Regions from separate parts of the Homo sapiens genome. Here regions 1, 2 and 4 are each linked to region 3. The links come from fine-mapping of genetic effects on gene expression. A gene starts in region 3. Each other region holds a variant in brackets. All regions are shown on one strand. Distances are from middle to middle. Region 1 overlaps SCLT1 (sodium channel and clathrin linker 1). Region 2 overlaps SCLT1 (sodium channel and clathrin linker 1). Region 3 holds the start of SCLT1 (sodium channel and clathrin linker 1). Region 4 overlaps SCLT1 (sodium channel and clathrin linker 1).

What was found. PIP is the estimated chance that this variant, and not a neighbour inherited with it, causes the effect.
Region 1: its variant is the best candidate, but not a certain one, in a credible set for the expression of SCLT1 in whole blood (TOPMed, PIP 0.51).
Region 2: its variant is the best candidate, but not a certain one, in a credible set for the expression of SCLT1 in whole blood (TOPMed, PIP 0.71).
Region 4: its variant is the best candidate, but not a certain one, in a credible set for the expression of SCLT1 in whole blood (TOPMed, PIP 0.84).

The regions. Positions count from the first base shown.
Region 1 is chr4:128,955,322-128,960,477 of GRCh38, forward strand. SCLT1 (sodium channel and clathrin linker 1) reads right to left here. Exons shown (of 21, transcript NM_144643.4): 12 at 4,279-4,456; 13 at 1,705-1,803. Among named protein-coding and RNA genes, the nearest start is that of SCLT1, 140 kb to the right of the region's middle. The variant C/G (reference allele first, on the strand shown) is at 2,964.
Region 2 is chr4:128,966,979-128,972,134 of GRCh38, forward strand. It overlaps SCLT1 (sodium channel and clathrin linker 1), which reads right to left. Exons shown (of 21, transcript NM_144643.4): 10 at 3,400-3,490. Among named protein-coding and RNA genes, the nearest start is that of SCLT1, 120 kb to the right of the region's middle. The variant T/C (reference allele first, on the strand shown) is at 2,657.
Region 3 is chr4:129,090,316-129,095,471 of GRCh38, forward strand. It overlaps SCLT1 (sodium channel and clathrin linker 1), which reads right to left and starts at 3,224. Exons shown (of 21, transcript NM_144643.4): 1 at 2,755-3,224. The coding sequence starts at 2,788. It also overlaps a transcript of C4orf33 not described here. RefSeq lists an enhancer at 2,919-3,488.
Region 4 is chr4:128,910,890-128,916,045 of GRCh38, forward strand. The region is part of intron 18 of SCLT1 (sodium channel and clathrin linker 1); the gene reads right to left. Among named protein-coding and RNA genes, the nearest start is that of JADE1, 100 kb to the left of the region's middle. RefSeq lists an enhancer at 2,432-2,611. The variant T/C (reference allele first, on the strand shown) is at 2,354.

The DNA of each region.
Region 1 (5,156 bases), 130 kb before region 3:
ATTTATAAACCAAATAGTAAGATAAACTATTAAGAAATAGGAAAATCCAATAATGGCACCAGCCATGATTTAAAATCAAAAGTGAACAATGTATATTTTTTACAAATTTTAATTATTTGAGAGATATCTAAGAAATAAAGTATTTTCATATTTTAAAGAAATAAGCCACGTCATATTTTTGTTCAATTTTATAGCCAGAACAGAAATATGTGACAATTTATTCATTATATTTACTTTAGTCAATAGGAAGAGATACATGTAAAGTTATTCTCAATTCAACAGGTTAATTCTACATATTTGAAGGACATGCCGTGAATAATTTGGGATTAAATGAAATTCACAGAACAATGCTAAAAATAGTGCTATCTCTGGGTATTAAACTTGTAATTTTAATTTTCTTTTATACATATTTTTCATTTATACATATTTTCTCATACATATTTTCCATTTCTTTTTACAATGAGTATATATCACTTTTAATAATAATTTTAAAAGTTTACTTAAAAAAATCAACTTGGCAACAGTGTGGAACTCAGAGGGGGCAAAGACGCAGCAAAATGCTTGGCACACAGGAAGTGCTCAATAAATACTTCCTGAGTGAATAGCTGTAATGGCAGGGAAAGGCTGGCTACAGGAAATCAACAGGAACACCTAAGGAAGGAACAATCTGGGACTGACTATGAGAGTAAGTTCAGTTTCAGACATGTTGAGTTTCAGATGCCTGGTAGGACTACATATTTGAATAGGGAAATAATTGGATTTTAGGAAGCATCTGTATTTTCCGTTTGCAAAACATTTGGAATGAATGAGATCACAATGCTTTTGAAAAATTCTACTTAGATTATTTAAAGCTTCATGCAAAAGATGACCTTCATCAACCTCAAAATCAATTTGAATTTATTTTAGGATAAGAAAATACAATTAGAGGAATGCTCATACCAAGAATACTTTAATAAAATATTTTTATCATTAAAAGTATAAAGTTTATTAATATTTATTTTAAAAATATGTCATCAAGAATATTTTAGGCTATAGTCCAATGTTACAGTACTCTCAACTTCACAAATAGGAAAGACAGAGCTCCTGCAGAAAGGATATAGAAGATGACAAATTAAAAAGCCCAGGGTTTACTTTGGACTCTGCCTTAAATTAAAAATTTTATCTTGGGAAACTATCTAATTTCAGTCATATAAGACAAAGTAATAGATTTTTTTCTTTACACCATGATTCTGTAAAAGTAATAGATTTCTAAGAAATACTTCTGCAGGAAGAAATGTTGTACAGTGGCTTTATGGAAATAAAAATTCTACCACTTAGTTGCTTGGGAGAAAGCAAACATTTTAACTTTATTTTTTCTAAACTGATGGAAGTTTTGAAAACCAGTTTAAATCTACAGTTCACCTAGGAGAGAAATAATATTGCCCACAAAAAATACAGATAAAGAAAAAAAAGGAACATCTTTATTTTATCCAGTGGAGGGCTATACAGTATATCCCACTATCCTACTGGAGATAATTTTAAAGGAAAGGAGCCTTTACTCAGTTCCTTTAGTTAGTTTTTAAACACTTAGGTTAATAATTTCATATGGAGTCTTTATAACTATGTAGGCAAGTATTTTAATTTTAATTTACAAATATTTAGGTAGAATTTAGTCTTTAGTTGTGACTTAAATTCTGAATTTTAAATATAATTAAAAATCCTTACTTCTTTCTTGGTTCTTATGGTAGCATCTTGTACAAACCGAGAAACTGTCTCTTTCATTTTCTCTATGTCTTCTTCTTTTTGCTTCTCCTCAAGTAGAGCCTTCAGAAAATAATCATTTCATGTTATAGATAACATTATTATTAGTAAAGATAATAACAGGTGAAAACCTATCCACTAGTCACTTCCTTATTCAAAACTTCTGGGACATCTCTACTTGAATATCATGTTGAAATCACGAATGATATTTATTTTCCCTAACCTCCTCACCTGCCCTTGTCCTAACTAAAGACACTTTCTCTATGGTATTTATTTCAGCCAGTGTTTCTAACACCCTTCTAATCTCTACAGCCAGAAATCTTAAAACCATTGTTGAATTTTCCATTTTTTCAAGTCCCTATATAAAGTAAATAATCAAATCTAGGTATTGTATCCTTATAAGAATCTCTTGAATTTCTCTCTCTTTCCATTATTTAGTATTATTCAAATTATGTCACTCATTAACTCATAATTTGATCATTGCAGACACTACTTGTTTTGTCTCTTTGATGTATTTCTATAATTCCAATCATTTCCATCCTCCACCAAATAAATATTGCCATAATCCTAGCTCTGCTGTCAGTCACAGTCCATTTCCTTGCTTCTCTGAGAAGCAAAACTCTGTAACTTGTTCATCTCCAAGACTTTTCCTCTCAATCTCTTTTATACTCCCTTGAATCAGGCTTTCACCACCATGATCTCCATATTGATTATCTATAAGTAAATTTTCAGTACTTCTTTACCAGCAGCACTTGAAATATTTACTTTCCTCTCCTTGTTGTACTTTCTGCATGTGATTTTCAGCACATCACACACAGTACCGGTTTTCCTCCTATCTCACTGATCATTCCTCTTCAGTCTACATTGCTGATTCTTCCTCATCTCCTGAACCTCTTAATACTGGACTACCCAAGGTTCACTTCTTGTCCCCCTCTCTATCTGTCCTTCTCTTAGTGGTCTAATCAAATCTCACAGTTTTAAATATCATTTATATGCTGACAATCCCCATATTTACATCTCTAACACAAACCTTTTTCTGGGCTTGGAACTTCTTCAATTAGGCCAAATTGAATCCATTTTAAATCAACATGTAAATGGCCCTGTGTTCTGTTCCCACCATCTTCCAAAGGTACCATACACATTTTTACCTCTGTTTTTGTAAAAATTGTTTTTTAAGATAAAATTCCTCCACCTTAAACAAGTAAGCTAGTGAGAAGTAACAG[C/G]TGTTCTTATGTAATAACCTTGAGGGGGAGAAGGGGAACTATGCTAGGCTGTACTTCCTGCCTTGTTTGTGTGATCGGCTGGGAGAACCTTTGACTTTGAACAAGCAACTGAAGATGGGAACCCTCTAGCAATTAAGCAATGAGTCAAAGAGCAGCTTAATATTGTAACCATAGACAGCCTCTGTGAGCGTCTGTTGACTTAAGATTTGAGTGAGAAGATTTGGGAGGAGGATGGGCAATGAGTGTTCCTACTATTTTCTCTGTCCACTGTGCTCTACACAAGATGTTTATTTTTAATGGCTTGGTATAAGAGTGCTCATACAAGTAGGCTTCAGAGGGTAGAGATAAAAATTTTTTCTTGACCTTAATTTTTCCAGCTGATTTAGGTATTCGACACAATTCCCAAGCATATTATGTCTATTGTGTTCCTCTTAACCATTCTAAAAGACAGTATTCAGATCACAGATGAAAATATTAGTTGAAAGGCATGATAAACACCTTAGCATCCCCACAGTTAGGATTTAGATAATTAATTCTTTTTTTATTTATGAGCTTCTCAATATCCAACTTACACTATATTCTGTTTTAGAGCTCTCTTGAAAAATCCTCTGTAAAAAGGGAAATAAAAATAAAACAAAGCATTTCCTTTGTACCCGTATTCTGCATATACTAGGCATTCGATGAATGTTGGTAAATAAATTAATGATTTAATGAACTCTACATAAGGGAGGCCGCAAAATAAACATTAAAACATTTGTTTTGTGACTTCAATAAACTTAAATGTATCATTCATAGGGAAGCAGTATATGACAAGGAACACTGTATTTGACAGCACAGGAATCACAATTGTTAGAGAATTAAAAAAGAACAGTGACATGAAGCCTTCAGTAAATAAATCTTTAAAGCTAATTAAGCTTCCGCTTTAATAAAGTAATTGAGTATATGATGAAGGGGAATAGAGACGGGTAAGATTTATCAGATTCAACTGAATAAAATATAGGGTATACTGAAGTAAAGCACTGTTAACAGTTTTTTTTTTTTAAGTATGAGACTACAGGGGATGAAGATTAGTTACGCAGCATCTGGGAGAATAAGAAAGTCTGATATTTATACATTATTTTAGAAAAGAATTGATGTTTTATCATATGATGATATCTGGTTTTACCATCCAAGAATATGGATGATTACTAATGAAAAGAGTAGCAATTTCATTTTCATGCATTTATTCAACAGCTATTGAATCCCTTACTGTGAGGTCACATGGGAGAATAGTCAACATTTTATTATATCTAAACATATTTACTAGCTTTCTTACCTGACTTTTTTGAAGGTTAGCTTCTTCTAAGAGTTGCATGCTATTTCTGGCTCTTACAATAGCCTCATATCTCTCATTTTCTAATTCATTGCACTTTGCTTGTAGCTCTCTGGTCTGTTTTTCCAGATGTGTATTTTCGGTTCTTAATTGGTTGGCTTCTTGGATTGTCACACATAATCTAGAAATCAATAATTACACTGGGAAAGTTAAACTTTTTTAAAGGGAAGGAGGGAGATTTACTGAGCATCTACTACAGGACAGGTATTATGCCAGTAACTTTCACATGTATTAATATTTTCTCATTTGATACTCATTACCCTTCTATAAAGTAGGTTTTACTATCTCCATACCTTCATTTTAAAGAACAACAAACATACCCAGAGAGGTTAGGCATTTGATTAAGATCATAGCGCTAATGAGCAGTGGGGCTGAGACTAAGCCTGGATTTTCTGATCCTAATTATGTTATACTTGTTATGGTATCACACTGTATTATATAGTTACATGACAATGATATAAAGCAAACCCTTAAGAAATGAGTTGTTCTTTACATTTATATGGTCTTTTCTCTTTTCTCTCCTTTCATACTCTCTACCCAGACAAGCTATGTTAACTTACTAATGTATATCTTAAAATAATTTTCTCAATATTCATATGATCATATGTACATATATATATATACTCATACACATATACACATAAATATACACACATATTATACATACAGGTAATGACAGGAGCTTTTTAAACTTTTGTTATAACAATAAAAATCATAGTATACACCCTTTTCTGTACTTGCTTTTCTCATCCAATAATATAGAAATCTCATCAAGTTAGAAAGGCTCCTTCCTTTCCTAGTCTAATGAATGTAACCTCATT
Region 2 (5,156 bases), 120 kb before region 3:
GATAGGTAGTTTTTCAGTACTCACCCTCCTCCCATCCCCTACCCTCCAGTAGGGCCAGTGTATATCGTTCCCTTTAGCGTCCATTTGTACTCAATGATTAGCTCCCACTTGTAAGTGAGGACATGCGGTATTTGGTTTTCCGTTCCTGAGTTAATTTGCTTAGGATAATGGCCTCCAACTGCATCCATATTGCTGCAAAGGACATGATTTCATTCTTTTTATGGCTGTGTAGTATTCCATGGTGTACACGTACCACATTTTCTTTATCCAGTCTGCTGCTGATGGGCATCTAGGCTGATCCTATCTCCTTGTTATTGTGAATAGTGCTGTGATGAACATACATGGACATGTGTCTTGATAGTAGAATGATTTATACTACTTCGTTATATACCCAGTAATGGGATTGCTCAGTTGAATGGCACTTCTGTTTTGAGTTCTTTGAGAAATCTCCAAACCTCTTTCCACAGTGGCTGAACTAGTTTCCATTCCCACCAGCAGTGGATAAACATTCCCTTTTCTCAGCAATATTGCCGGCATCTGTAATTTTTTGACTTTGTAATGATAGCCATTCTGACAGGTGTGAGATGGTATCTCATTGCGATTTTGATTTGCATTTTTCTAACTCATAGTGTTGAGCATTTTTTCATTTGCTTGTTGGCCACATGTATATCTTCTTTTGAAAAGTGTCTGTTTATGTCCGCTGCCTACTTTTTAATGTTTTTTTTTCTCTTGTAAATTTGTTTAAGTTCTTTATTGATGCTGGATATTACACCTTTGTCAGATGCACAGTTTGCAAATATTTTTTCCCATTCTGTAGGTCGTCTGTTTACTCTGTTGATAGTTTCCTTTGGTATGCAGAAGCTCTTTAGTTTAATTAGGTCCCACTTGTCAATTTTTGCTTTTTGTTGGAATTGCTTTTGGAGTCTTTGACATAAAATCTTTGCCAGGGCCTATGTCCAGAAGTGTTTCCACAGTTTCTTGATGAGAACTTAGCCATTAATCTTATCATTGCCTCTCTGTTCAGGTCATTTTTCTATTGCTACTTTCAGGTATTCTCTTCATAATTGGCTGTCAGTATCATTGTGATGTATCTCAAAGTGATTTTGTTTACTCATTGAGATTCTTAAATTTTAATGTTTTCCACCAAATTTAGGAAGTTTTCAGCCATTATTTCTTTAATTTTTTTCTGCTCCCATCCCCCTCCCTTTGGCAGTTCCAATTACACTTATGTTGCATTGCTTCACATTGTTCTACAGATTTCTGAGCTCTTGTTCATTTTTCTTCAATCTTTTAAACTCTCTGTTCTTTGGACAGGGAAATTTCTATTGATCTGACTTCAAGTTCATTGATTATTTCTTCTGTCTTTCCCAATCTATTTTTGAGTCCATCTAGTGAAATTTTTATTTCAGTTGCTGAACTTTAAAGCTCTAGAGTTTCTTTTTTAAAAATTGTGTTCCAGTTCTCAATTAAAATTATCTATCTCTTCCTAGAGACTTTAATTTAAAAACAGATTTTAATTCCTTGAACATATATATAATAGCTGACTTGAAGTCTCTGTCTGCTAAATCTAACAGATCGATCCATTTAAAGTCAGTTTCTAATGGCTTCCTCCCTCAGCACCTCCCCCACAAGTATAGGTCATACTTTTCTGTCTAGTAATTTTTGAAAACTCAATAGTGTAGATAATACATTGCAGTTACTCTGTTTCGTTCTTTTGAGCATTAAATTTTTATTTTTATTTTTTTAGTTCAAGTAGACAATTATCTTGCTTGGTCTTGAAATTTGAAATCTGTTCCACATACAGTAGGTAGCAGCTGATATCTGTAATTAGTTCTTACTGCTTTCCACTGTTGCTTTTATAACTAGGCTCTGTGCCTACATAATTTGAAGATCAGTCAAGATTTGGGCAGAGTTAGGGCTCATCATCTTTGTGGTTCCCTCGCTTCTACAGATTCCCCTGTAATATCCAGCTGCCTTTCCAGCTTTGGGCTTTGTCCTCTGATACTTCAAACAATAAGGAAGTCTTCAGTATGCTGATGCTTCAATTGCACACATTTCTCGCATGTATTCAATTATAAAAAGTAGCAAACTCAAATATCTAGTTCCATACATCTCTATCTTTCAAAAGTAAATTTCTCTTAGGTCTCTGCCTGCTTCTTCACTGGCCTCTCTGGGGTCCCTCCCCCACTTCCATATGCATAATTTAGTTGTCAGGCATGAATTTGGTAAGAATTTACACTCAGAATTTGGCTCTCACTTTTTCTGTGTGTTTCTCTTGCTGCCAGTATTTCTTCTTTAAATTTCCTATTGCTGGCCGGGCGCGGTGGCTCACACCTGTAATCCCAGCACTTTGGGAGGCTGAGGCAGGCAGATCACAAGGTCAGGAAACTGAGATCATCCTGGCTAACACGGTGAAACCCTGTCTCTACCAAAAATACAAAAAATTAGCCAGGCGTGGCGGCGTGCACCTGTAGTCCCAGCTACTTGGGAGGCTGAGGCAGGAGGACGGCATGAACCCGGGAGGCAGAGCTGACAGTGAGCCGAGATCAAGCCACTGCACTCCAGCCTGGGTGACACAGCGAGACTCTGACTCAAAAATAAAATAAAATAAAATAAAATAAATTTCCTACTGCTTTTCTAGCCCTAAACTTTGACC[T/C]GGGTACCTTAAGCCCATACAAAGGTGTTTTCTGAAGCCACAGCTGTGGGGGTTGGGAGAACCATCAGGCCAGACATCCAAAATTTAACAATTCTTATTTCTTTTACTTCTTTCTGTTTTGGGTGCTTTCTGGTGTTTTAAAAATTTATCCAAGTTTTAAAATTGTTACCTATGGGAGGGTTCTTGTAACACTTAGAAAATCTACCATTATTAGAAATCTATAATCAACTTTTTACAGATTGGAAATAAGGCTTAGAAAGTTACATAGCTAATAAGTCCCAGAGTGAGAATTTTCAATAATTATATCTATCTAAAACTAAAGCCTGACTTTTCCTTGACATCCTTCTGAAATTTCTCTATTACATATTAAAAAGAACCAGAGTCTATTGTGTCAATAAATACTTTAGTAAATAACATAAAAGTAGTATTAAATGCTTGTTTTCCACCTGCAAATAACCAGTTAACTGAAACTTGATCTTGTATCAATTTGCGTTTCAGTAATGATGTGCTTAGGTGTGATTATGACGTTCTATTGAATTAGGCTATAGAGAATGGAAATAAAAAATTCTTTATAAAGTTGTTTTCAATAATATAGTTTAGCTTCCTACTTTCATATTTTAAGGGTATTAAAATAATTAATTCATCTTCTGACAACCCTCTTTAACACCTAATCCAAAATAAATCAACAAAATAGAAAGAAAACTAAGCAATAGGTACCCATTTGTCTTAGAAATAGAAAATACCTTCTTTTTCATCTGTCCCTGCAGATCTTCAGTCACATTAGTTAACTCTTCCACTTTTGCTACAGCAACTCTCAGCTCTAATTTGGCTTGCCTAAAAAATAAAGTAAATTAATAAACACTGTTTTCATAGACCACTAAGAATAAAAAATTAGAATAGAAATCTGAATTTGGTAAAATCAGTTCTAACTCTTGTTTATCTAAAATGGATCCATGGAATAAATTTTGGAAGATTCCTTTATTACTAATGAAGTGCATGTAGAAGATATTAAAGAGGAAAAAATATAGCTGAATGGCGAAGGGTATGAAGTAGAGGTCATGAATGCTGTACTTGGGTAAATTATATTATATACCAAAGTGATTCAATAAGTTTCTTGAAAAAGCACTTTATCATCTTGATACATTACCTAACAAGAGCTCCAGTGCACTAAGAAGAATATACTTATGTCTATAATATCTTTATAGATGGAGATGGAGATATACTGCTGATTGGACTTTCTATGAAAATGAACTTAAACTTCAATACCTTGATCATTCCATAGACACCAGAAGTTTGTATTATGTAAACACAACATAAATTAAAACATTTGTTCCACCATAATACAATGTTTATTTTCTTCAGAGACTGTATTGGCAACAAATGAAAAAGATAAATTTTTTTGAACATTCTAACAGAATTAAATAAGTTTCAATATCTTCTTAACTCCTCATAGGAAATGATTTTAGAACAATAATATGACTTTCTTAAACAGAAAAAATGATTTTTAATATCATCATAATTAAGCATTAAGTGAGTATAAAACCCTTTGATTATCTAAAGAACATACATTTTCAAGAAAAAAATACTGTAGTGTAGGAACTGTTCCCTATTTCTTAATTACATTTTATGTATGTATCTAAATGTAAATCATATTTGTGCTATAGAACTTACAGAAATTATTTGATGCAAAATTCACAAGTAAATGTTAGTTCATTTCCTTTTGACTCTTTGTCTTTAAAACTGCATTACTTATATAGTTATAAATTTCCTACAATAGAAAATACAAATCTAATAATAGCTGATAATATCTCAGGTAGTTATTAGTGCCAGGGACTGTTGTAAATGCTTTGCAGTCATCTCACTTGACACTCGATAATAACTGTGAATTAATACTACTATTATATCAAACTGAAGTAGAGGAGAGCAAGGTTGATAGAGGTTTACTAATATGCCCTAGGATTCACAATACGTAATAAAACTAGTATTTAATGAGTCCCCTATGACAGACTGCCTACCCTCACATGGTCCTAATAATATTTTATATGATGAGGCATTTAAGAAAATGTTTTGCTTTAAATTAACCAAGATTATAAAAAAAATCAAACAGGCCAGGTGCGGTGGCTCATGCCTGTAATCCCAGCACTTTGGGAGGCCGAGGTGGGAGGATCACAAGGTCAAGAGATTGAGCCCATCCTGACCAACATAGTGAAGCCCCATCTCTACTAAAAATACAAAAATTAGGTGGGTGTGATGGCACGCGTGCCTGTAGTCCCAGCTACTTGGGAGGCTGAGGCAGGAGAATCGCTTGAACCTGGGAGGCAGAGGTTGCAGTGAGCCGAGATCGTGCCACTGCACTCCAGCCAGGTGACAGAGCAAGACTCCATCTCAAAGAAAAAAAAAAAATCAAACAAAAATAGGTTTTTTTCATTTGCAAAATGATTCCCTAAGGACAAAATAAAAACCACATTATTCATGTAAAATCTCTGCGTCAGGCTGAGAG
Region 3 (5,156 bases):
TTAATAGATCCATACATATATAAACAACTGCAAAGGAGCAAAGGTAATTCAATGGAGAAAGGGTAGTTTTTCCATTTGGGCATCCAATGCAAGAAAGTGGCCTGGATCCTTACCTCATCCCTTGTATAAAATTTAACTGTATGAACCATAGATCTAAATGTAAAACCTAAAACTATAAAACTCCTAGAAGAAAATATAGAAGAAATCTTTGCAGCCTTGGGTTAGGCAATGATTTCTTTTATGACACCAAAAACACAATTCATAAAAGAACAAATTGATGAATTAAATTTCATCAAAATTAAAAATGTTTGGCTCCAACACTATTAAGAGAATGAAAAGAAAAAATAAGTCCATCACCACTCTGCCAGTGAGTCTCACACCCCACTAATGAATGAATTCTTAGTTCCTTAGATTGATAATGCAAGTACCTCTTTGAACAGGTTCCTAAAAACTAACTGATCTTTCCCAGACAAAGGTGGAAGAACGGTGCACAGCAAATATGCTACAAGCTTACTCTACTAGTAGCCTGGTTGAGTGTGGAGCTGCCTGTCGTTATGATATGTAAAGCTGAAATAGTAATTATCAGAGGAAATGTCATGTGGGGACATGAGAGTTGAGAAGTACCAAACATGAGTTGAGAAGTACCAAAACATGAGTTGAGAAGTACCAAAACAAATGGTCTTGACCTGGGCTCCCAAATCCAAACGGAACAAAGAGACAATCAAGATCAACAGAAATCAGTGTAGAAAAAGTCAGAGGCAGGTGGAAAGAAGGCAAGTGATCTATCTTTATCTGGGCTGGTATTTAGGTGGGTCACTTAATGGAATAACCCACCACCTTCAAATGGCATGCAAAATCCGGTTAAAGAAAAAAGGAGAGCGACACAGACACTCAACTCTCATTCTTATCTCTTCATGCAAACGCTACCATTCTATGCTCCGATTTCCTGAATAAAATCAGTTATTTTAAGCCTTTGAACCATTCCTTCTTCTGCTCCTTCTGCTTGAGATTTCCTTCTTGCACTCCACTTGTCTTCCATGGAACTATTAAATACCACTCATTTTTAAAAAAATGTTACTATGCTTCAGTTGTCTTATTTGTTTTCCCCTGGTATTTGGATCTCAGTTTTATCTAAGAATTCTGGCTGGATCATTCTTATAAAATTAATAGTTTCTGACCACCTCAAGTACTATCCTGACTCTAGCCAAACTCCTCATCAACCAATTCCTGTCCCACACTACTCTTACGGTGGCCAGTTAGCTGTTCTTATGGGGTGGGGATATTCCCACTGCAAACCTAAGAAATAATGCTAATGTTATTGTGTCATTATAGTGTCATTAATTATTTTAGATAACATATACCATGCACTTAATATGTGCCAGACACTATGCTCAATGCTTTTTCATCATCTCATTTAAGTCTCACAACTTCAAGAGGATTCTTGTGTTCTTATACTCATTATATAAATGAGAAAACTGAGGTGCAGAAAAGCTAGGAAACTTGCTCGAGGTCACAGACCTGGAAAGAGGTAGGCTGTGAGCCCAGACAGACTAAATCCAGAGGCTGACTGAGTTCTTAACCACTGGTCTATAATGCTACCAAAACGGAACTTACTACCTTTTTCCTAACTTCCCCGTTGCTCAAGCAAAAACTAAGTTGCTCTCTACCTCTTTCTCTCAAATCCCCTGATCTCCAGTCTCCCTGTGCCCAACTTAGTTTACTTCTTACCTGAATGATGACAGTAGACAACTAACTGCACTCTGCTATAATGCATATTCCCCGTAAAAATCAGACCGGGCCTTCTAAACTACAATTTGATCATGCCACTCTCAACTGAATTCCTATAACCCATGCAATGGTCCATACTCCTTAGCACAGAGAAGACAGGGCCCTTCACCATCCAGCCCCTTTCTACGCCTTCAACTGCACTTGCCATTTCCCTATATAAATATTCCAATTCAATTTACATCAATATTACACTCAAACCAGCCGTATTGCAAGTCTTTAACAAAGCATATTCCTAATCCCCTCAGTGTCACAAATATTGTTCTATTTGGGATGCCTAGAGTTTTTCATATAGTAAATTCATATTTGTACTGCACGTTTCAGCCCAATAGCACCTTCCTTGAACATATTTTAATAATAATCGTGTAATAGTTAATATTTGTTTAACACAATGTATCAGATACTATTCTAAATCCTTTACATATTTTAATATTCATTTAATCTTTCCAACAACCCTATGAGACTGTGGCAAAAGAGCCAGCAGTTGCTGTCACTTCAATATATTTTGGAATACATTTCCCTCCCCAAATTAAATTCTTGGAGGTAAAAACTGTCCTGTTTATCTTTGCAGCAGCTGTTCTTCCATAGTGTCTGGTACATAATAGAAACAGGAGTTCAATAAACATCTTTTTAATAAATGGCCAGAGAGCTGTGCCCCTAGATTTTAAATGCACACTTGGAAACTCCTGCTGGCCATTAGCCTTCTAATCTTCAGAGCACGAGAGGAGCATAACAAACATGTTTAGCGTCTAGTAGAATTCTGTGTAAGCTACAAGTACTACCACACGGTTCTGCTTAAATATACACACATCCTCACGTATAACATCAAGGTTTTTTTTTTCCTGCAACTAACTTCTTTAACTCTTTACCAATTTAAATGTACCCAACCAGCATTCAAAAAAGATTTGTCGGTCAACGACGACGATATTAAACATTGTATATGAAGTCTCAAAAAAACATGGAGCTTACTTTGCTCTCTCAGAAAGTCGATTTCTGCAGCCATTTCGATACAATTTTAGTTTAGAGCTTTCACCACCTTTACCTTCCTCTGAAAGACAGAGAGCTTGCTGTGCGGGAAAACAAAACTAAGCCAACGCTCGGTTGGTTGTCAAGCGCTCCAGCGGTGCAATCTGCATCCTACTCACGCGGCATCTACAGCCCCGCCACGCTTCTTTCCCCCGCGCCCCAGACGAGTCCCTGGCCCTGGTGAGAGACTGAAGATTGCTGGGGACTCCACGTTCAACCGAATCCCACGCTGGTGGGAAGAGGACGCGGTCGATACAGGCGTCCCGCGGGTCACTCTGGGTCTCGTCGGGCCACCTAGGAGAGTGCCGCGGGAGCTTGACGGCAGCCTGAGAGCGGCGTTCTACGCGGAGCGGCGGGGGTTGGAGAGGACAACGCCAAGACGGCTGGGAAGCCCCAGGCCAGCAGCGGAAGTCCACTCGGCCCGCCCTGCGACTTTGAAACCGGTGCCCCGGACCACTCCTTGGAGACGGTGGCGCCTCTTGCGTCATCACGCGGGCGTTGGAGCTTACGCCATCGCGCGTCCTAGAGTCCTAGCACGCTATTGGCTGGCTGTCAAGCAATGGGAGGAGTCGTGAGAACCTGGATGACAGCGGGCTGAGCCACCGGCTTGGCGCGGCGGCCAAACTGGTGGGACAGTGTCTCCAGGTAGTGAGGCCCAACCTCTTTAAAACAAACAAACAAACAAACAAAAAACCAAAATGCAAACGTGAGTAGAGAATGAAATACACAGTTTAAATGCCCTCACTATCTTTGGGTTACTAATATACTAAGCCTTTCTGGACTAAGTAAAAGATGCAGGTTCCTGCGGCTAGGGATAGAAGCCAGACTGGCGTCTTCAGAATCTCCCACCAAGGCTGTACCTCTGGAGGAGTTCTAGGTTTGGATTTGGTCATCTCAAGAAGGTAAGTACCTTCTCGGTCTTTGTGGGTCTTTAGACAAAGGAGACAACTGTTGTTTAAATATTTAACTGTGTAGTAATAAAGCGTGTAGTTAGAAGTACTCAAAAGATCTTGCAAATTCAGCAGCTACTTCTTCAAAGATAAGCTTGTTTCCTCAAATATAAGGAAAGATAAAAGGTACTTTTTTTTGCAAAAAACAAAACGGTAAAACTTACATTTGTGGATAGATTACAATTTTCATTTTTGAAAATTAATTTTGTCTGGACTTAAAACGTATTTTTTTAAAAAAAATCATTTAACATTAGAGGAAATCTCACCACTAGCAACAAAAATGTTAACTTGAAGCTAGCCACTAGTTTTGTGCTTTTAATAAATTGTATTTTTATGGACTGAAGTAAAGTTTCACTAAACAGGCATGTCATAGATGCAGCTTGATTTGGCTTTCTGTTTAACGGCTTAAGAGTTTTGTTGTCCCGTACTCATAATGTCATATAAACAAAGTAACCTTAGCGATATGTGTTAAGAAATTTTAAAAATGTATTCAAATATATGCAGTTAGGCATCTGAAGGCCTTACTCAATACTCACTGTTAATAGAATGAGATGGTCCCTTCCTCTAAAGACTAGCTGTTAAATATGGATGTGTAGCTTAATAATCATTGAAAAGGTCTAATCCAGCTTTGAGTTGGTGATAATTGAACTTGTTCTGATTTTTAGTAGCTATAACGTTTACACAAAAACTTTTTGTATAAACGTTATAGCTAAGGGAAAATTGAGTGTGCAAGGTCCAACTCGTTTTTGAAGTTCAGTATATGACTCTTTCTTCATAAACATCTCACTGACTCTCCAAGGACTTGCTTGTAACTTCTCCCACATTTGAACCTTGTATATTGTCGTATTTCTACTTGGCATCAAATAAATAATTATAGACTTAACTCTACGCTTACACCCAAACTGGATGGAAGCAAATACCTTCTGGCTATAACTGATGAGTGGTATTTACATAAAGTGAATATCTCAGGTGAAAACTTTTATGTCTGCACTCGAATTTTTTAGCTTACATGATCATAATTATGATCATGATAGTTTTTTGTTTTTGCGTTTGTGTTTGTGGTTACAAGATTTTAGTAGTTGAATTTTAATGGAGTATTTTCAACATAAGTTTCATCATTAGGAAACAAAATTGTGATGATTTCACTTATCCTTAAAGGATCCCCTCTCATGTTCCTCCTTTTCACATCTCCTGAGTTCTTTATCCACTTCTCCCAAGGTAGGTGCCACCTTAGTACTTACTTCATGCTCCTTCCTGCATTATCTGTCATGTTTTGTAGTTTGTCTCCAGGCTCCATCATAATACCTGGAACACAGAGTTGATTAAATATCTGATGGAAGGAATGAAAGAATTCAGTGGATGTTCATGAAAAGTATCTATTAGTATAAATTGAAT
Region 4 (5,156 bases), 180 kb before region 3:
TACTGTTTTATGTATTTTGATATCTGGTAGGGAAAATCTCATTTTTTTCCCACAGAGGTTTGTTGATTTCATCTATAAAAATAGTAACAACAGGCCAGGTGCGGTGGCTCACGCCTGTAATCCCAGCACTTTGGAAGGCCAAGGTGGGTAGATCACCTGAGGTCAGGAGTTCGAGACCAGCCTGGCAAACATGGTGAAACTCCATCTCTAGTAAAAATACAAAAAAATTAGCTGGGTCTGGTGGCAGGAGCCTGTAATCCCAGCTACTCGGGAGGCTAAGGCAGGAGAATCGCTTGAATCTGGGAGGCGGAGGTTGCAGTGAGCCAAGGTTGTGCCATTGCACTCTAGCCTGGGCAATAAGAATGAAACTCCGTCTCAAAAAAATATAATAAATAGGTAAATAAAATAACAACAATCTCTCATTTAAGTAAGATTAGTACATATATACTGCAGTTACAGATACTATACACTAATAAGTTAACTAGTAAAACAGCTTCTTCTTTGAAGCTCAAAATTCTTTGTGATACATACATTGCAAGATAAAGTAGTAGTAGCTAAGAGGGGATAATTATAGAGGAATTAATAAGATATTACAAATTAAACTTCAAACCAAAAGATACCATACAGAAACTCAAATTTTTAAAAAGCTTCTGATCCTAAGTTCTCCGATACTAAGATGAAAAATTACCTATGAAAAAATTATTTTATTTAATTATTTGGTGTTACATTTAGTTTTGACCATAGTTACTTATGGGTAGATAATTTTAAAAATCACAGGTACTGGTAATCATATTTAATTGTCAGTTGCGAAAAGGTATAGAAGTTTCCACGGGGAATAAAGCAAGTCAAGGGAGGACTACGTATATCATGACTATACTTATATTTGGTTTTGCCTCTAATATTCTCCTAACTGTAGCAAATAGGTGGACAAAAGCAAGCAAGAAAATAGCAACTTAAAAGAATTCAATTCTTATGAAGTAGAGAGGACAGAGGCAAACAGCCAAGTACTTTCAAGATTCAATGCATACAACTAATTTAGAGACCAAGGAATGCTAGCACTTTTTAAAAGGCATATTTTCAGGGGGAAAGCTTTGATGCTTAATACATCACAATAATGCACACAGAGAAGCAGGATGCTGAGCCCTAACCTGAAAAGGCTCACTTTTGAAAGCGAGTAATAACACTTTTGATATGAATGCTAGAATATATAATGCTGTGGTATATATAGAGACATCATTACACGGAGAGTCAAATGCATCAAACAAGCCATTTACTTTTAAAATGCTCTGTAGTTTATTTTGCAATTTATTATTAATTAAAGACCTAATTGGTTCAAGACTTGGACTATACCATTGAATCACTAAAAACAAAAACACTTCTAAGGAGAACAAATGAATTCTTCCCCAGAGATATGGAAGTACCATCTAGCAGTTAGTCTGGTACTTTACTGATGCTCAATATGGATGCTATTGTATGTCAAGGGTAGATTATCACCTTTGTAACGTATTTTTTCATTAAAATTAAAAATAAATTTTTTAACTTGAAAATTATAAATCTATTATGACTGTCATAGAATTTTGTATTATGACCAATAGGTAAGATAGGTCAGTGAAAATACTTCAGTAGATACATTTTATTGATTTCATGCATAATCTTCAGTATTATTTATGTTCTCCAAAAAGGAGGGATACAATTCATATATATAAATCTTGCCTAAAATCTACTGCCTTCTAGAACTAGTAATCTTTTTGTGCAAGTAAAAGTAAGTACATGGGCTTTTCTCTCCTACTCTTCCTCCTCCTCCTTCCCCTCCTCCTCTTCCCCTCCTCCTCTTCGCCCTCCTCCTCCTTTTTCTTTGTATATATATATAAATAGAGACAGGGTCTCAATGTGTTGTCCTTTACCAAGACTTGGTTTTTAAGGCTGGGCAGAAAAGGAGGTAAGCTTTGAAACAGAAAGAAAAAAAGATGGCAAAAATCCTAGTGATATTTACTGGATTTACTGGATTCACATATACCACTGGTCAAGATATAAACTGCAATCTTGACTATTTAGGCTAGGCAGGGCTTTGTTACCAAATGTGATTTGCTGAGCATATCTGGCCAGTGCTGGCAGAAAGTTCAAATAAATTTAAAAGCCAAGATTTCACTTAAGTAGGAATTTTCTTTAGAAGGTTTGTTGGTTTGCTTCAAATTGCTTATTCCATGAATTATTTCTATTTGTTTCTCTCAGGGTAGTTAACCATTTCATGTTGCTACGTTCGGCATTCTGTTGTTGTGGAAAATTGTTTTTTAAAACAATTCTTTGTATTTAACTGAACATCTAACAAGGAGGCACTACAGCAAAACAAAAA[T/C]AAAATCTAGGGACAAATGAAGAGTTTGTTCTTACACTGGAGCATTACAGCCAAGTTGACAGGAAACACAGGCATGGGAAAATATAACTGCAGTGTGGGAAACTGCAGAAGTTCTCTTCTGATTGCTTCTCTTTTCTCAGTGAAACAGGAATTGAAGTTATTGCCTAAAAGGGATGATGGGGGAGGAGTTGCAAAAAGATTTGAGGACAGAATAAAGGGTATGAAATAGTCACCAAAGAGAGTAGAATATATAAAATGATTGTCTTGCAGCACTAAAGGTCCCTTTTGTGGTCATGAATTTAAAGTGAGACAACCCAGAATGGCTGTGTGTGTTTTTTCCAGCCACCTTGAGCTGAATGAGTAAAGCTACAGAGAAGACGAGTTATATTTAAACAGGGCTGTGGTTGGCCAAGGAAGAAGAGAAAGAAGGGCAGGAGAGTGGAGGATGATTATCTCTGCTGACCTCTTCTAAAATGGGGCGCTCTCAAAAATACATACAGTGCCTATTGGCTTTTTCTGTTTATTTTTCTCTTTAGCACTCACCATCTATCACATATTTAATTTCTCTTGTTTAATTTGAGACCAATTAATGTTTGTCTCCCCTATTAGAATGAAAGCTCCATGAGGGCAGGGATTTTTGCCTGTTTTGTTCACTGGTATTGTCTTTTAAAAGGTATGAGTCTTTGCTGGATAACAGCAAAGCAGGTATCAGAGTACTGGTACTCACCCGCTCCTCACCACTGCCCACAAAGAGAAGTGACTAGCTGGCTTACTACTTAGCAGCTATTTCTAAAGCACTGGGCGATTTGGATATCATTTTGATCTTTAAAACTAGTAATATTGCCGGGCGCGGTGGCTCACGCCTGTAATCCCAGCACTTTGGGAGGCCGAGGCAGGTGGATCATGAGGTTAGGAGATTGAGACCATCCTGGCTAACACGGTGAAACCCCGTCTCTACTAAAAATACAAAAAAATTAGCTGGGCATGGTGGCTGGCGCCTGTAGTCTCAGCTACTCTGGAGGCTGAGGCAAGAGAATGGCATGAACCCAGGAGGTGGAGATTGTAGTGAACCGAGATAGCCACTACACTCCAGCCTGGGCGAAAGAGCGAAACTCCGTCTCAAAAAAAAAAAGAAACTAGTAATATTATCTTTTATTGTAATAAAAAATCCTTAATGTGATAGATGTTTCTCTAAAATCTTAAATAGAGTAATAAAAAATAGGAAGTGATGAGAAATGAGATTGGACATACATGTGAAACCAGATCTAAAAGCTGTTGCAGCAGTCCAGGGATAAATGAAGAGTTTGTAAGAGAGGTCAGAGATGATGGTGATCTGATCTAATATAGGAGTAGCGGGGATGAAGGCAAATGGATTTGAAAACATTAAGGAGAAAGAAGAGAAATAATCAAACATATCTGAAAGCTGACTATAGAGGTGCACAAAGGGGATACAGAAAGAGGAGCAATCTATGGACCACATTTAGGTCATTCTATGGACCACATTTAGGTTGTTTTCAAGATCATGGTTATTGGAAACTATAGTTTCTTCTACAGTATTTGAATTTTAGTTAAAATCAATGCCAAAAAGCCCACACAAACAAATAATTTTCAGTATTCAAATGAATTAAGCTATGATGGTGTGATAACAAGTAGCAAGATTGATGAGGTTTTTTGACACAACTCATTCTAGTAAACTCCTTTAAGTTAGTCATATATGGGCTACTCTGCTTGCTCATAAAGGGGCACGGCATACTAGAATTCAAGTTGAAAGGATTCTTCTTTGGTGTTGCACTGCTGGCTAGCACACTCCTTTAAAAATCACATTTCAATAATTCTTAAATAAATTACCTGTAAACATTTAAAGAATCATTATCAAGTGCCCAACACTATACTATAGACTGTTATGCTTAACCAAATAGTTATGTTCATATATAGATACCGATTCAACATACTCTGCCAATAATTTCTAGTGGTCTGGTGCCTGTGGACATACATGCCCAGTTCACAGAGGTCTGTGTTATACGGCCAACGTGTACTTTTCTAGATTTCAGAATAGGAGTTCAAAAAATTGAATAATCCTAGCTGCAATGTTTTGTGCAATATTTCTCCTCTGGAAGTATGACCTTAATTATTAGCAATACTGATTTTTAAAAACTATTTCACCCAATTAATCCTAGTGCTTATGTTCAGGACTATGTATTCCTTTATTATCAACAGTCTTCATAATAATTCTTAGAATCAATAGCATTTTCAAGTTTGTAAGATGAGAAACAAGTTTCATTATACAGCAGTGGTACAATTATGGGAATTCAAGTTTCTTAGGTCTGTTAAATACTGGGGGCACATTATATCATGTTTTAAAAGTTCAAATGCATTTCAAAAAGCTGAAATTCTACTTTGACCAGAAAGGATCAAAACTGGAAGAAGAGTTTGGCCTAGAAAAGAAACAATAATTGATAAAATTCACTAGCTTTCATTCATTCATTCATTCATTCATTCAACAAATATGTTCTGGATATCTACTAGTGCTGGACACTCTTTTAAGAGCTAGGGATACAGTGAGGAATAAAACAAACTTTATGGAGCTGATAGTCCCATAGGAAAGACAGACTGTTTTAAAACATGTAATGAAACAAGTATAAAACATAATTACTGACAGTGATGAATGCTAGGAGAAACAAAGATAGGCAATGGGACAGAATAAGTTCTTAGTGGCAAAGCCTTATTCATCTTGTGTTTCTAGCATTTAGCAGAATGCTTGGAGAAGAATGGTCACTCAGTTGTCATATAAATTAAACTGAGT